Linked DNA regions of Homo sapiens: region 1 is linked to region 2. The links come from fine-mapping of genetic effects on gene expression. Tissue or cell type: whole blood. Region 2 holds a variant in brackets; the other region holds the start of a gene. All regions are shown on one strand. Distances are between the middles of the regions.

Evidence for each region.
Region 1: SLC25A42 starts here. The variant in region 2 is fine-mapped to the expression of SLC25A42 in whole blood (TOPMed, PIP 0.96).

What each region holds. Positions count from the first base shown.
Region 1 is chr19:19,060,675-19,066,050 of GRCh38, forward strand. It overlaps SLC25A42 (solute carrier family 25 member 42), which reads left to right and starts at 3,320. Exons shown (of 8, transcript NM_178526.5): 1 at 3,320-3,441. LOC124904655 (a long non-coding RNA gene) reads right to left here and starts at 2,851. Exons shown (of 3, transcript XR_007067160.1): 1 at 2,516-2,851; 2 at 1,370-1,477; 3 at 152-476. RefSeq lists silencers at 2,792-2,961, 3,222-3,491.
Region 2 is chr19:19,014,923-19,020,298 of GRCh38, forward strand. SUGP2 (SURP and G-patch domain containing 2) reads right to left here. Exons shown (of 11, transcript NM_001017392.5): 4 at 4,187-4,307. Among named protein-coding and RNA genes, the nearest start is that of SUGP2, 16 kb to the right of the region's middle. The variant G/A (reference allele first, on the strand shown) is at 3,325.

The sequences.
Region 1 (5,376 bases), 46 kb after region 2:
ACTGCAAGCTCTGCCTCCCAGGTTCACACCATTCTCCTGCCTCAGCCTCCTGAGTAGCTGGGATTACAGGCGCCTGCCACCACCCCCGGCTAATTTTTTTGTATTTTTAGTAGAGATGGGGTTTCACCTTGTTAGCCAGGATGGTCTTGATCTCCTGACCTCGTGATCCGCCCGCCTCGGCCTCCCAAAGTGCTAGGATTACAGGCGTGAGCCACCGCACCCGGCCCTGGCCTTCTCTTAAGTAGCTTTTGCTGTCCTCCTTGATGACATCGAGACCTGGGCTGAGGTGGAGCCTGCTGCAAGGATGGTGCGAGTGTGTTCAGGCCACGCCTCTGCTACTGTAGGCTCTTGGTGAAGTGGCCTGACTTATCTGAGCCTTGGGAGGTGAATGAGGCCACTCTGACCCCAGCCAGGCTTGGTTGTTGTCACTGCTGTGTTCAGGATGTCTCCCTCCAGCCAGGGATGGGCTTGGGCTCCTGGGAAAGGAACACAGATTTTTTCTGTTGTGAACATACATCTCCCAGAGGCTGGACTAAACCTCATTTTCCAGATAGGAAATAGACTCATGGGCATTTGAGGGGCTGCGGTGGGATGAGACCACAGCTTGGCCTGCCTCCAGGCCCCTCATCTTTTTCCAAAGCTGTTAACCTGACCTTGGGCAAAAGGCCTTTGGGCCTCAGGTGATTAGGCCTGGACGCTGTGCCAGGGCCTGGCTCACAGATGATTCCTGGGATCCCCAAGAGGTAGAGGAGACTGGAGGGCGAAGAGGCAGTGTCCTGTCCAGGGCTGGCCAGCCAAAGCAGAAGAGCCGAGATCCTGGGCACCCTAGCTGGGCTTACATGAGTGCCCATGGTGGGGGTGTCCATTGCTATTGCCAAGGTGCTTTGCCTGCCATTGCTGGAAGGCGGTAGGGAGGTTGGCTGGCGCCAGCCTGCTAAAGAACGAGCAGAAGCTAGAGAGGCAGCCCCAGGCTGGGCCAGAGCCTGACCTTTGCCTTAGTTGGCTCTGTCCCTGGAGGCACTGTGGGACCTTCCAGGAGCTTTGTTACCTCCCCCTCCCAGGGCCTGGCAGGTGGGCACTGGGAGTGGGCGCTCCTCGGCGTAGATATCTCCCTCTTGGTGTGGCAAGCCACGCCCATAGTTGGTCTGTGTCCATGAAGCGCTATTTACAGAGAGGGAAACAGGCCCAGAGAAGAACAATATATCATCACCAGCCTTCCATGAGTGCTTACTGTGGACGAAGCCATTGTAAGTGTTTTGCTTCCATTTCATCAATGCTCACATCAGCCCTAGGAGACAGCCGGGAAACTGAAGTGGGGAGCTTGTGTTATTTGCTGAAGGTCCTGTGGCTGTTACTGGCCATTACTTACGTTAAAAAGAGCAGGGATTCAAACTCAGCCCTGGGTCCTTCCACCAAGGAATATTCTCCACCATAGGCTCAGTTTTCTTATCTGCTAAGTGGGCACTGTCACGTCCACCTGGAAGTGAGGTGGGGAGATGGTATTGGAGAAAGCCCAGTGGGGACCTGGCACCCAATTGATGTTCAACTGACCTCAGCTTCCCCCTCTTCTCTGGAGGGCAGAATGGAGGCCAGATCCTGGAAGTTGCCAGGAAGCAAACCACAGGTGGGAGGTATGGGAGAGGAGGTCCAGGTAGGCATATCGTGAGAATATCAGGAGTTTGATGATGGCCTTGGGCTAGTGATTTCCCGTCACATCCTCCCCATTTGAAACTTGTGGATCACACACTTAGCAGGGGCTTGTGCAGCCCTGAAATGTGAGCCCTTTCTAAGGTTGGTTTCAGCCTTGCTCCCTCCCAGGATTCCCTGGTTCTGAACTTGATCTCCACCAACCCTGGCCAGCACCTAGAGGAAATAAGAGCTGGTATCTGGAAACATTTGTAGCCCTCTCCATCCTGAAGATGAAGGGTGAGTCATAGAACAGAGTGGCTTCGGGGGAGGTGCCGATGACACAGCCATGCCTGGGATGGCAGGTGTCTCCCTAAACTGCCGGCATTTTTCTGCACTTCACAGAGGAGCTGAGGCTCACAGGCCGCACATGACCTGCTCAGGGTCAAATGCTTTCACCAGATAATTAAAATGAGAGCTGAGTTGTAAATTTTCCCAGGGAAGCAACCCCAGAGAGGAAAGATCAAGGCATAGGAATCATTTTCCCCCCTCTTTTCCAAATGAAACAGCTGAGGCTCACAAGGGCTTTTGCCCAAGGTTGTGTGGTGGGCCAGTGATTGGACAAGGATTCAAACCCAGGTCTCTGAGGCCCCCAGTGGCTCTTCTCTGACACACTCTTTCCAAAAAGCAGGCTGCTCTAGATTCATTCTCTGGTTTAGCAACCAGAGAATGCTGTGTAACCTTGGGCAAGGAGCTTGACCTCTCTGTGCTCTGGTTTCTGTAAAAGGAGCCAGTGGTCTCTCTGACCTCATGGGATTGTGGTTAAGATTCAGTTAATTCAAAAAAAGACTTGGCAGGGAGAAGGCCCAACAGGGATGTCACTGGATACCGTGGCGGGGAAAGCTGGGACGCAGAGAGGTCAGACACTCAGAAAACCACGCAGCGCGTTTCAGTAGGATTCCGCCCCTTATTTCCATGTCTTCACACCACCTCGAGATGGAGAGGGCAGTTCAGAGTGACCTCCAGCGAATCTGCCCTCTCCGTGTCGTCTGCAGGGGATTAGTGGGGAGTAAGGGGATAGAGAATTATCCAGGAGTCCTTCAGCCTTGATGGTCCAAGTTCACATCCGCTTCTGTGCTAGGTGGCCAGAGGGCGGGCTCTACACGAGAGCCTCAGGGGACCCTGCGCCAGGCGTCCGAGGCCACGTCGGGTTGCCGCGCTCCGGGTCGGACTGCACCTTGAACGCTCCAGCCCTCCCCTGGGGGCGTACCGCCCACGGCCGCTGCGACTGGCCGCGGGGCCTGCCAGTCTTCGGCTTTGCGGCCAATCCCGGTCTCCCCCCAAGCTACGCCCTCCGTTCCTCTCGCCTCTGCCCCACCGGTAGCGCCAGTTTCTTCGTAGCCCCGCCCCTGGCCCCCAGCGATTGGCCGACAGTTCTGCCTGTTTTCTGCCAAGATTCCAATCCTCGCCTGCCTCCAGGCCCTCGCCTCCCAGCGCCTAGCACCCTGAGGGACCACTCAGGCACCCCAGGCCTCTCCCAATAGCCCCACCTCTGCCAATCAGCGATTGGCTTTAGGGGCTGCCCATCTGCTTCATACTCGCCAATCACTGTCGCTTCCAGCGCTGACTGGCCAGGGAGCAGCCAATCGGGGCGTGGCGTGGACCCCTCCCGTGGCGCGCTCTGGGGGTGCGCGAGGCGGGGCCGTGGCGGCTGGAGGTAGCGGCGGCGGCGACGCGTCCGGGCCGGTGAGGGGGCGCGGGGGGCGCCGGGGGGGCCCAAGCGTCAGCGGCCCGCGCCTGTCGGGCTGAACTGAGGTGAGGCACGGGTCCTGTCATGGATCCCGGGGCGAGGGGCGGATGAGGCGGGGCATGACAGTAGCGTCGCGAGGGCAGGAAGAGGTTAAAGACCCCCCCCAACCCCACACTCCACGTCTACTGCCCCCTGGGGGCTACTGCATCCAGGTTTGAGCCCGTCACCCGCAGTCCACGCACGCCTGACACCACGTCCCTTTTCGTTGACATCCCCCATACACTTTAGACTGTCCTTGCTGACATCTCCCACACCCCTGGGGCCTTGTCCCCGGCGCCCCGCACAGCTGGGTCTGACATCCCCCTCACACACCTGACACCGCGCCCCCACTCACGAACACCCGCCCCCACTCACGAACACCCCCCACATCACCTGAGTCTGTCCTTGTCGATGACACCCCCACACCCACACCTGAGCCTGTGACTCCTAACTCATGGCCTCGCAACTCACACCTGGACCTAGTCCCGTCCCCCACTGCCTTTCCTCATATCCAGGTATCTGCTCGCTACTCTCGTGCCCACTCCCCCAGCAACCTGTGTCTCTCTTCTCAGGGACCTTCCCCCTGGCACCTGCCCTCTGCCCTGGCAGCCCCACACCTCTGTCTCCCCCTTTTCTCTCTCCCACCTTGGGCTTTCTTCCACGTGCACCTGTGTTCGCACACCCTCTGTAATAATCCCCCCGAATCCCCCAGGTCCTCCAATAGTCCCCCAAGCCTTGGTATCTCAGGATCGCTGCACCCTCCCCTCCCCAAACAAAAGCTTACCCCAGTGTTCATTTCTAACAGTGCTTGACAGTCTATAAAGTGATTTCCGGACCTTAGAATAATCCCATCTGTCAGACCAAACCGGAATCATCTCCATTTTACCAGCCACAGACCTAAACCACTTGAATGCTAGAGGCAGAGCCTATTCTACCCTGGGCATCGCTGACCCTCTGCTGTGGACCCACCGCGTTTGGGCCCATCTGTTATGTTTATCTCAGAGGGATTGGCAGGAGTCGTGACTTTGACTGGGTCCGGAAAGGCTTAGCTGGAAGGGACGGCCCCTCTGCCAAGCGTGTGTCTCGGAGTCCTGGGGCAGGCTGGCGGTGGAGACGCTGCCGGAGGAGGGGGGCTCATCATCTTGGGTGCCTCCTGCAGGATGCCGGAGAGGGGGTTGCCGGGGCCGGGGCTCCCAGCTCTTGCAGACCCGGGACCCCTCTCCGACACTCCCTGGGCCCTTGAAGCCGATAAAGAGTAAGGAAACACTCTTTAGAGTGAGGCAAACTAATGTTTCAGCTGTTTAAAGCTAACCTGCAAAACGAGCCTGGGTGGTGCTAGGAATGATTCTTCTGGAATTTTTTAGTTCCCTTGAGTCTGATTTGCAAGCATGCAGCATAGAAGGAGGACAGTGGCTTTGTTGTTGAAAAGCAATAACGTGCCATTTCCTGTAAGGCTCCTGGAGCGTTTCTTACCCCCTCCCACCGCTCCCTGCAAAGACGGTACCAGAATGTTTCAGAGGGTCATGTCACCTTCAGCTTCTCCTGTGGAAACTGAAGCCATTTGGGTTTTCTGTCCAACTTCAATAGGAGTCATTTAAAACATATATGGGCATGTATGTATATATGTATGTATATGTGTGTGTGTTGTACACATATGTACATGTACCTATAATATTCATATGTTTATATACATATTTTATATATACATATTTCGTGTGTGTTATATATGTACATGTGTATAAACTTTGGCAAGATCATTGAGTATATAGTTTTTGGGTTTTTTTTGAGACGGAGTCTTGCTCTGTTGCCCAGGCTGGAGTGCAGTGGTGTGATCTCGGCTCACGGCAACCTCTGCCTCCTGGGTTCATGCAGTTCTCCTACCTCAGCCTCCTGAGTAGCTGGGATTACAGGCATGTGCCACCACACCCAGCTAATTTTTGTATTTTTAATAGAAACGGGGT
Region 2 (5,376 bases):
CAGGTGCGGTGGCTCATGCCTGTAATTCCAGCGCTTTGGGAGGCCAAGGCAGGAGGATCATGAGGTCAGGAGATTGAGACCATCCTGGCTAACATGGTGAAATCCCGTCTCTACTAAAAATACAAAAAAATTAGCCGGGTGTGGTGGCAGGTGCCTGTAGTCCCAGCTACTAGGGAGGCTGAGGCAGGAGAATGGTGTGAACCCGGGAGGCAGAGCTTGCAGCGAGCCAAGATCCCGCCACTGCACTCCAGCCTGGGGGACAGAGCGAGACTCTGTCTCAAAAAATAAATAAATAAATAAATAAATAAATAAATAATAAAAAGAGATACAGAGGTAGCCGTGAGAAGTAGTTTGAAGAACTAAGTGACTGCCTTCAAGGAGTGGAACATGGAAACAGGTCACAGCAGAAACATTTGGCTTTTCATTATGCGTTCAATTGACTGTTTTGTTAAATACAACATACAAGGAGCATTTTGACTTAAGAATTCAAACATGCACACCAGAAACCTAAGTTTAGCAGTTTCTTTACTTATTGCTGTGCTTTTGTATCACACTCTTTCCTCTTACAGTCTCTTGGTAATTCCTTCTCTTTTTTTTGAGACAGAGTCATGCTCCGTTGTACCCAGGCTGGAGTGCAGTGGTGCGATCTTGGCTCACTGCAACCTCTGCCTCCCGGGTTCAAGTGATTCTTGTGCCTCGGTCTCCCAAGTAGCTGGGATTACAGGCGCCTGTCACCATGCCCAGCTAATTTTTTGTATTTTTATTAGAGACACGGTTTCACTATGTTGGCCAGGCTGGTCTCGAACTCCCAACCTCAAGTCATCTGTCCCCCTCGGTCTCCCAAAGTGTTGGGATTACAGGCGTGAGCCACTGCACCCAGCCAGGTAATTCCTTGTGAAGGAGTTTTTGGATGATAAAGTCTCTGGGACCAACTCCTAAATCTTTCCTTCTTCAGGATCTATTCTATCAGCCAACCGCTGAGATTTTTATTTCAATCTATTTTTCATTTCCAAGATCCTTAATAGAATCGTTTTCATAGCAACCAGTGTCTGTTTCATGGATACAATATACTCTTATTACCTGAGACTATTCATTGCACATACATATTTATAGACTACACCTCCTCTTTCTCATAGTGACTCTGTCTTCTAGGGTGTCAGGAGTTGGTTGAGTTTGGTGATGCTCTTTCATGATACTGGTTTACCTCAAATATCAGTTCTTAGTTTGATGCTTATTTCTGGGACTACAGGCACCCGCCACCAGGCCCGGCTAATTTTTTTTTGTATTTTTAGTAGAGACAGGGTTTCACCGTGTTCGCCAGGATGGTCTCGATCTCCTGATCTCGTGATCCACCCACCTTATAGGTGTGAGCCACCATGCCCGGCCGCTTATTTCTGATTTTGTACCCTGCCCTGCCCCCTATCCAAACATACCCCTGACTCTGGCTTCCGTCTGCTGCCCCTGGTTATCAGTGGTCATGAGACCACTGGGCCATGTGCAGGGGTCATGGGGCAGAGGCACCAGCCCCCAGGCCTCTCAGGGCCTCCTATTCCTCCAGCCTAATCACCTTATCAACCACCTGTAAAGTGCCCCTGGGCCTTCTAAGTCTGGATGCCTTCTTACCAAGAGGGTCGGTATCTGCTTGCATCTGTCAATCTGACAATCCTTCAACATGCACACTGGTTCAGACCACAGACCCTGGATTTGAATCTCAACTCTGCCTCTTACTAGTTGTGGATCCTCAAGGCAAGAGGGCTCTTGGAGCCTCAAAGTTTCTTGTCTGTAAAATAAGCATAGCAAGAGACCTGCCTCCCAACGTTGTTTATGAGGATTCAACCAGCTAGTGCTTAAATCAGTAATGTGCTTAGAACAGTACCAACTGCACAGAAGGCACAAGTGTTTATTAAATAAAAAGTATTCAATAAATGATGCTGGGACAATTAGGTTATTTGGGAATTTTTAACTTTTAAGTTACATGCCTACCTCATTCAATACATGAAAATAATCCAAACTCAAGAATTTTGTAAAAATAAAACCACAATAAGCTCCAACCTTCCCCTTGGTAAATCATGGTGGGTAGGACCAAAGACATGGAAATGTATGCCTTTCAAGCATCTTTAGTAATTACAACAGCAAGCATAGCAAGTCCAGTATGGGTACAATCTGACTACCAAAAAGGGCACACTCAGGAGGTCAAGGCTGCAGTGGGCTGTGATAGCACCCCTGCATTGCAGCCTGGGCAACAGAGTGAGATCCTGTCACTAACAAAAAACAGAAAACAAAAGAGGGCACAGCACACCTACAGAGTAGCAGTGAGAAAGTCAATTAGTACAGATAACCTATGGAGAGTAATCTAATGATAAACATCAATGGTCTCCATCAGGGGCAGCTCTGCCTGCCATGGGACACCAGGCAGTGTCTGGATGTATTCTGGGTTGTTACTAGTGAGACAGAAGGTCCTACTAACATCAAACGGATAGAGGCCACAGATGCTGCTAAACAGCCTGCAATGTCCAGGACAGCTCCAACCCTAATACAGAATGATCCAGCCTCAGTGCTGCAGCTGAGGCTGGGCGCGGTGGCTCACGCCTGTAATCCCAGCACTTTGGGAGGCCAAGGCAGGCGGATCGCATGATTTCAGGAGTTCAAGACCACCCTGGGCAACATGGTAAAACCCCGTCTCTACTAAAATACAAAAAATTAGCTGGGTGTGGTGGCGGGCACCTGTAATCCCAGTTACTTGGGAGGCTGAGGCACAAGAATTGCTTGAACCTGGGAAACAGAGGTTGTAGTGAGCCGAGATCACACCACTATACTCCAGCCTGGCGACAGAGCAAGATTCCGTTAACAAATAATAATAATAAAAATAAAAAGTGCTGCAGCTGAGAAACTGACATAAATCAAAAGCCTCTAACATGAGCTTTAACCCAGCAGTTTCACGCCCAGATATCATAATAAACTGCCAGAAAGGTAGGCAGAAATACAATCAAAGCACTGATCATCACTTTTTTTTTTTTTTTTTAAGAGAAATGGTGTCTCAGCCCAGCACAGTGGCTTACGCCTGTAATCCCAGCACTTTGGGAGGCCAAGGCAGGTGGGTCACCTGAGGTCAGGAGTTCGAGACCAACCTGGCCAACATGGTGAAACCCCATCTCTACTAAAAATACACAGATTTGAGACCTTCCACCCTCACACCCCACAAGCATTATTTGTTGCCACTGGAGCCCTGTGGACAGAACTGGCCATTGCCTCTTTGCTGAGGTGACCTGCCTCATGTCGTGCACCTGTAATCCCAGCTACTTGGGAGGCTGAGGCACGAGAATC[G/A]CTTGAACTCAGGAGACGGAGGTTGCAGTAAGCCAAGATTGCGCCACTGTACTCCAGCCTGGGTGACAGAGCAAGACTCTTTCTCTGGCTTGTTCTTTACTTTCTCTAATAAGAAAGTACTATATTTAGGACGCAAACTGTAATTTTAATAAGTTGTTCGGCCGGGCGCGGTGGCTCACGCCTGTAATCCCAGCACTTTGGGAGGCTGAGGCAGGTGGATCATGAGGTCAGGAGATCGAGACCATCCTGGCTAACACTATGAAACCCCATCTCTACTAAAAACACAAAAAATTAGCCAGGCGTGGTGGTGGGCTCCTGTAGTCCCAGCTACTCGGGAGGCTGAGGCAGGACAAAGGCATGAACCCGGGAGGCGGAGGTTGCGGTGAGCCGAGATAGCGCCACTGCACTCCAGCCTGGGCGACAGAGCAAGGCTCCGTCTCAAAAAAAAAAAAAAAAAAAAAAGTTGTTCTATTTACATAAAGAGGCAATTAAGCAAAAGACAGTTTAACAAATATTAGCAATAAATTGCAAACAACTGCAATGATGTATTACTAATCTTACTACCCTTACTCTGTATTCTCTGCATGCACATCTCACTGCATCCTTAAAACAGCCCAGCAGGGACTTGGAGCTGTAGTCACAGGTGAGAGAAGGCCACCCACCCAGCTGGCCTACCACTGGTCTGCAGCAGAGCTGGGGCTTGCTGAACCCACATAAATCTGAGCCACCCTCATGCTCTTCTCACTGGAGAACACCACTTGCTCAAGTATCTCACCCTCTGCTCTCAATACCATCAGAGTGACCCAAATTTTGCCATATACTCCATGAGAGGGATTCACAGCGTGGACATTTAAAGACCTACCAGTAAGCAGGGTCCTCTTTGAGAAGAGTTCTCTCTTTGGGAGACAGGCTGCCTTCGATGACACGTTTCACAAGCTGGTCGATGGTGCCCACTACCCTGTGATCTGCTCGCTGGGGGACAGCTGGAACACACAGAACAGCTTCTCTGAGAAATATGCTGAATGTGGGCTCTGAGAAGACGAGGATAGTTGAGTAGTTGGGGGCTTAGTGCTGAACCCAAGCAGGCATCAACAACCGAAATCCTCATTCACAAGACACCAGCATTGAAAAGAGGAAAACAACCAATATGGAAAATCTCCTCCTAAAAAATGTAACAGTATAACCACTAGGAGAGAAACAGTCACAGCTTTCAATGACTGGACAGAGCAATTTATGTATATGCTCTAGAAAAAGAAAGATATATAGCAATTTGATATCATTTTTCACATATTACTTAATAATTTGAGTGTTCATAACATTAAAGTGGAAAATATAAATATCTAGTATAAAATATACAAAAATGTATCTAGGTTATGGTTCTCAATATAAAGGTGGGAATAAAAAATATAAATATGGATACATAGAAAGAAGACTATAAGGAAATATGTTAGGAAATATGTTAACAGAGGTTATAGGGGGTAGAATTATCAGGAATTTCATTTTCCTTATGCTTTAAGAACTTAAAAAAAAAACTTGTGTTTTGTAATCAGAAAATATATGTATCAATTCACAAAAAATTTTCTCCAATTAAAAAAAAAAAAGAAAAAAAAAAAAGGTCAGCCGGGCACGGTGGCTCACACCTGTAATCCTAGCACTTTGGGAGGCTGAGCGGGGTGGATTGCCTGAGCTCAGGAGTTCAAGACCACACTGGGCAACATGGTGAAACTCCGTCTCTGCTAAAATACAAAAAAAAAAAAAAAAAAAAAAATTAGCCAGGCATGGTGGGATAGAGCGAGACTCCATCACAAAAAAAAATAAATAAATAAATAAATAAAAAGGTCAGTGATCCCAAATTACATGTTCACAGAAAATATCTGCTGAATGTATAAGAAACAAATTTTGGCCAGGCACAGTGGCTCACGCCTGTAATCCCAGCACTTTGGAAGGCCAAGGCAGGCGGATCACGAGGTCAGGAGATCGAGACCAGCCTGGCTAACACGATGAAACTCCATTTCTACTAAAAAAATACAAAAAAATTAGCTGGGCATGGTG